Linked DNA regions of Homo sapiens. The protein of the gene in region 1 purifies or fractionates together with the protein of each later gene. This does not show direct contact. Each region holds a gene or a part of one and is shown on either strand. Other genes may lie near its edges.

The links. Proteins that work in one complex are often made in the same cells at the same time.
Region 2: the proteins of COX7B (region 1) and AUH fractionate together in Homo sapiens (co-fractionation; one large-scale study listed by BioGRID). This does not show direct contact.

The regions. Positions count from the first base shown.
Region 1 is NC_000023.11:77,902,468-77,905,171, forward strand, and holds part of COX7B (cytochrome c oxidase subunit 7B, mitochondrial precursor), read left to right. Parts: intron 1-175; coding exon 176-300; intron 301-2,704. UniProt on the Homo sapiens protein: Component of the cytochrome c oxidase, the last enzyme in the mitochondrial electron transport chain which drives oxidative phosphorylation.
Region 2 is NC_000009.12:91,222,419-91,225,918, reverse strand, and holds part of AUH (methylglutaconyl-CoA hydratase, mitochondrial isoform 1 precursor), read left to right. Parts: intron 1-3,500. UniProt on the Homo sapiens protein: Catalyzes the fifth step in the leucine degradation pathway, the reversible hydration of 3-methylglutaconyl-CoA (3-MG-CoA) to 3-hydroxy-3-methylglutaryl-CoA (HMG-CoA). Can catalyze the reverse reaction but at a much lower rate in vitro.

The DNA of each region.
Region 1 (2,704 bases):
CATTTCAAAGTACACTGCTTTAATAGCTACAATATGTTTTAACATTTTATTGAACTACATAATACTGTAAAATTAACTTCCTTGGCTTTCCTGATTGGCAGTATCAATCACATATGTTTTCTTTACCTGACAATTGATAATATGCTTCTGTATTCTTTTTTCGTTTTCCTGTAAGTTCGAAGCATTCAGCAAACAATGGCAAGGCAGAGCCACCAGAAACGTACACCTGATTTTCATGACAAATACGGTAATGCTGTATTAGCTAGTGGAGCCACTTTCTGTATTGTTACATGGACATATGTAAGTACTATTGATTAATAATTTCTGTTTCAGATGTTTTTCATTCTCAGTCTATGCATTCAAAGTGTCTTAACATAGTAGTGTACATATCTAGTTAGGAGGGACTTGAGAGATTGTGTAATCTAATTACCCACACAGTGCAGGGGATTTTTTCCCCCCAGCATTCATCCATCTTCTGTTCTTAACATTCCCAGTAATAAATTGCTTACTGGATCACAAGGCAGCCCTTTCCATCTTGTGTAGCTGTTTTTTTTGTTTTTGTTTTTTTTTTTTTTTAAGAAGAAGTCTTGCTGTGTCCCCCAGGCTGGAGTGCAGTGGTGCGATCTTGGCTCACTGCAACCTCTGCCTCCTGGGTTCAAGCACTTCTTCTGCCTCAGGCTCCCAAGTAGCTGGGACCACAGGTGTGTGCCACCAGGCCTGGCTATTTTTTTTTTTTTTTTTTTTTGAGACGGAGTCTTGCTCTGTTGCCCAGGCTGGAGTGCAGTGGCGCGATCTCGGCTCACTGCAACCTCTGCCTCCTGGGTTCAAGTGATTCTCCTGTCTCAGCCTCCCAGGTAGCGGGATTACAGGCGCCCTCCAGTACGCCTGGCAGATTTTTGTATTTTTAGTAGAGACGGGGTTTCACCATGTTAGTTAGGCTGGTCTTGAACTCCTGACCTCAGGTGATCCGCCCGCCTTGGTTTCCCAAAGTGCTAGGATTACAGGTGTGAGCCACTGTGCCCAGCCTTGTGTAGCTGTTAAAAGGATCATATGGTGAGTTAAAATCTGCCTTTTTCCTATGCTACCCATTGTTCATTGAAGCACAGAAATTCTGACCCACTTCCATATAACAGCCATCAGATAATAGAAAATTGCTATCATATCTCCTCAATTTTCTTTTTCAAATTAAACATCCTTAGTTCTATCAGTAATTTTTTTGTTCATGGTTTCCAGGATTTTTACTGTCTTGGATCGCCTTCCTGGACATAACTTCACTTAACAATTTTTCTTTTAAAATTTTACACTCAGAACTTAGCACAGTATTCGTGACAGATGAGATGTAATGTATCTTTTTATATTTTAGTTTCTTTACATCTTACATTTAACAATCTATCTTTCAGTCACTGTTACTTACTGGCTAAAAGTAGGAGTCCTGAAGTCTGTGTTTTTTTTTTTTGTTTTGTTTTTTGTTTTTTTTTTTTTTGAGATGGAATCTTGCTCTGTCGCCCAGGCTGGAGTGCAGTGGCGCGATCTCTGCTCACTGCAAACTCCGCCTCCCGGGTTCACGCCATCCTCCTGCCTCAGCCTTCCGAGTAGCTGGGACTACAGGTGCCCACCACCATGCCCGGCTAATTTTTTGTATTTTTAGTAGAGATGGGGTTTCACCGTGTTAGCCAGGATGGTCTCGATCTCCTGACCTCGTGATCCACCCACCTCGGCCTCCCAAAGTGCTGGGATTACAAGCGTGAGCCACTGCGCCCGGCCCGAAGTCTTAATAAATGCATAAGTTGGTTTAAAAAGATACAAATTAATCCTTAATGTAATAAACTTTATTTAAATAAATAGGCCTTTTTAGTTTTTGTTTTGATCTTCCTGAAATCAAATATTAAGATGTGTGCCTAGGCTGGGCATGGTGGCTCACGCCTGTAGTCCTAGCACTTTGGGAGGCCCTGGCGGGTGGATCACCTGAGGTCAGGAGTTTGGTACTAGCATGGTGAAACCCCATCTCTACTAAAAATACAAAAATTAGCCGGGCGTGGTGGTGGGCACCTGTAGTCCCAGCTACTTGGGAGGCTGAGGCAGGAGAATCGCCTGAAGTTGGAGGGGGTGGAGGTTGCAGTGAGTTGAGATCGTGCCACTGTACTCTAGCCTGGGCGATAAAGCGAGACTGTCTCAAAAAAAAAAAAAGTCTCAAAAAAAAAATTAAAGTGTGCTTAATTAGAAGGATAAACAGATGTTGAACAAATGTTTGATCAGAGGAGCTTTTGGAGGTGAAATGTTCCTTAGTGATACAGAGAATATAAAATACTCTGGCAGTTACTTAGGTAGTTGTGGTTGAGGGAATCAGTGTATTGAGTGGGTAGTATAGAAATGTGAAGTATAAATTTGAATTAAATAAAATTTAAAAATTCATTTCCTTGGTGATACTAGTCATATTCCAGGTGGCTAGTAGCCACATGTAGCTAGTGACTACTGTTTTTAACAGTGAAGATCTAGAACATTTCCTTCAGCTCAAGAAGTTCTATTGAACAACAGGACTGCTCTAGAAAATTAGGACAGCAATCAGGTTTGGCCTATATGGAGGGTATTAGATCCCAGGTGAGTTTCTGTGTATTTTTAACCTATAGAACAGAATATCTGTCATTTTCAAGAAATAGTCTCCGAGAGAGTGTACTCTGGTTTAAACACGTAACTGACAGCATTT
Region 2 (3,500 bases), on another chromosome or scaffold:
ATACACCATGGAATACTATGCAGCCATAAAAAATGATGAGTTCATGTCCTTTAGGGACATGGATGAAATTGGAAATCGTCATTCTCAGTAAACTATCCCAAGAACAAAAAACCAAACACCGCATATTCTCACTCATAGGTGGGAATTGAACAATGAGACCACGTGGACACAGGAAGGGGAACAATCACACTCTGGGGACTGTGGTGTGGTGGGGGGAGGGGGGAGGGATAGCAGTGGGAGATATACCTAATGCTAGATGACGAGTTAGTGGGTGCAGCACACCAGCATGGCACATGTATACATACATATGTAACTAACCTGCACAATGTGCACATGTACCCTAAAACTTAAAGTATAATAATAATAATAATAAAAAAAAAGAACTGGCACTTTAGGAATCCTGAATTCAGATGCCTAAGGGAACTAGCAGATTATATCATCTAATCTAATGAAGCAAGCCTGGTGTAAAATAGTCAACTGACAGAAATAGGATACGCTATCTTCACTTTTACCCCTAACTCTAAGTTAATATTGGAGTTTGATATTCAGAATTAAGAAAAGGTGAACTGAAGTAATTTTTTTCTAGTTCTCCTCTTTACATTTGGAGCTTACAGTCTGATGCCAGGCATGGCATGCTAACTAGGGAGGCTGAGGCAGAAGGATCATTTGAGCCTAGGAGGTGGATGCTACAGTGAGCTATGATTGCACCAAGATTTTGGCACATCTCATCTTTTGGATTGGGATGTTTTTCTGCACTATTTGACTTCCTTAACCAGCAAGAATACTGAGTTTCATTTAGTTTAATTATAGAAAATGCGTGTTCATAAATTTAAGTACTTTCAAGCTGGAAAAGAATGTTGGCATAAAAAGTTTTGCCATTTGGGGTAACTATTCCGGAGATATTTGTAAAAATCTTAGATTCCATATCAATCATGTTTAGTTGTCCAATATTGCATTGTAACTTCCATTTGTAAAGTTCTTTGCTCATAGTATCATTAGTAATTGAGAAAGGCAGACTGAACAGATTATATCATTTTTATAAACCTTGAAATCATGAATTTTGTATGCCTGAGGGGTGGAGGGGACAGTTTACTTTCAGTTTCACACATGTAAAAATATATATAATTCAGGCCATCAGTCTTAGATTTCTGCAAACTGGGATAATTTCTTGCCAAACAAATGTTCTAAAAGTTAAAATTTCAGTGGGAATGAGTGAATGAAATCATGTATTTGTGTAATCATTTAAGAATGTCCCTTTCAGGAAATAGTGTTAGGAATACTTTATACCCTATGCAAAAATTAACACAAAACTGATCAAAGACCATAGCATAAGAACTAAAAGTATACAACTCTTAGAAGAAAGCATAAAGAAAAAGCTTTATAACATTGGATTTGGCAATAATTTCTTGGATATGACACCAGTAACACAGGCAACAAGAGAAAAAAGAGGTAAATTGGACCAAAATTAAAGACTTTTATGCATCAGGCACTATCAACAGAGTGAAAAGGCAACCCATGGGATGGGAGAAAATATTTGCAAGTCTATATCTGATAAAGGATTAATATCCAGAATATATAAAGAACTCCTGTAACTCAACAAATGAAACAACTCAAGACGCAAATTAAAAATAGGCAAATAACTTTAAATAGACATTTCTCCAAAGACAATATATGGATGGCCAATAAGCACATGAAAACTTAGGCGCTCAGCATGACTACTCACAATGAAATTGCTACCAAAACACCAGGGGTTTTGTCTAGGTCCTCCTGTTCACTGCACAGAAAGCCCATCACTGTCACGACAAGTATTGCCAAGGAAGAAGGCTTTAATCGGCTGCTGCTGCTGAGATGGGAGCTCAGCCTCAAATTCATCTCCCTAACCCACTAAAACTAGGGGTTTATATAGCAGGGAAGAAATGTAACAATGTGTAAGAAAACAAGAACTAGGGAGGGGCAAGGAGTCATCTGGTCTGGTGATCAGCTGAGTTTTGGTTCTTTGATACTTTTTTTGAAAGGCCTGAAGGTCCTTTTCTGGGGAAGAAACTCAAAACAGATGCAAGTTTCAAACTTTAACAGCAGAAGGGTCAATTTCTTTGTTTATCCAAAAAGAACTGTCTATGGGACTATTGGGTGGGTTTCAAAATGCTACTGCACACCCATTAGGATGGCTACTATAAAAAAAAATAGTAAGTGTTGGTGAGGGTGTAGAGAAATTGGAATTCTTGTTCTCTGTTGGTAGGAATGTAAAATGGTTTGGTGACTATGGAAAACATTATGGTGATTTCTCAAAAAATTAAACTGGAATTACTGTATGATCCAGCAGTCCCACGCTGTATATATTGAAAGCAGAATTGAAAGCAGGGTCTTGAAGAGATATTTGTATATCCATGTTCATAGCAGCATTATTCACAATAGCCAAAAGGTAGAGCAACCCAGGTATCCTTCCAGGGGTGAATGGATAAGCAAAATGTGGTATATACGTACAATGGAATGTTATTCAGCCTTAAAAAGGAATGGATTTCTGACACATGCTACAACAGAGGTGAATCTTGAGGACATTACGCTAAGTGAAACAGGTGAATCACAGAAAGACAAATACTGAACGATTCCATTTATATGAGGCAATAAAGTAGATGGCTTGTGATGTCATCCAAAAAGATCAAGTCCTGGATGCAGTGTTAGTGGGTGAGCCACGCCAAGGGTTTTCCCCTGGTTCCTGTGATGCATTGTTTTCAATGGGTCAGAAAGTTAGCTCTCTTCTGCACCATACCTCTAGCCTCCACCGCAGGCCCGCCAGCCATCTGTTGTGTTATGCATCCAGCTTAAGAAACAAAGCATCCAGCTGTCTACCCCTCAGCTTAAGGGACTGGGTCTTTTTCCTAGTGTTAGTTACCACCTACATGACCATTACTTTGTTAAGTTTCTGCAAAAATCCTCATACCTCAGGATCATGCTATAAGTGGAACAATATGATGAACGAGTTTGAGCTTCCGGGACTTGGAAAATGTTGTTTCTGTTGAATAAAAAGTGTGACATTAACAATGTGGGTCACATTTGTTAATTGTGACCAGTCTACATTAAACTTTTCATAGAACATGAGAAAGAACCATTTCCTAATATGCTTATCATGAATAATATATATTCATTAAGTTCTTCAGTCTCATCAAAATTCTCATCAGCTCCATGAGTAAATATAGTTATCTGAGTTATATTTATATCTGTGTTCTAATCAGCTGCCATTGGAAGCACCATAAATAGCTTGTCTTTTCCATGCAGCTTATCCCGTAAGTTCTCAGACCTATCTTTACTACACTGAGCAACATCATTGTCGAAAGTTAAATTTAAATTTGTCAATAATTCATTGTCTTCAGACACATATTTTCTGCCGTATCGAGTAAACACTTATATAAACTCACCATCTCTAACGGCTTGGGCAGCTTAAACACGTAATAACTGCATTTTGCGGTAGCATTATTGTATTTGTTTGAAAACAGTCTGTA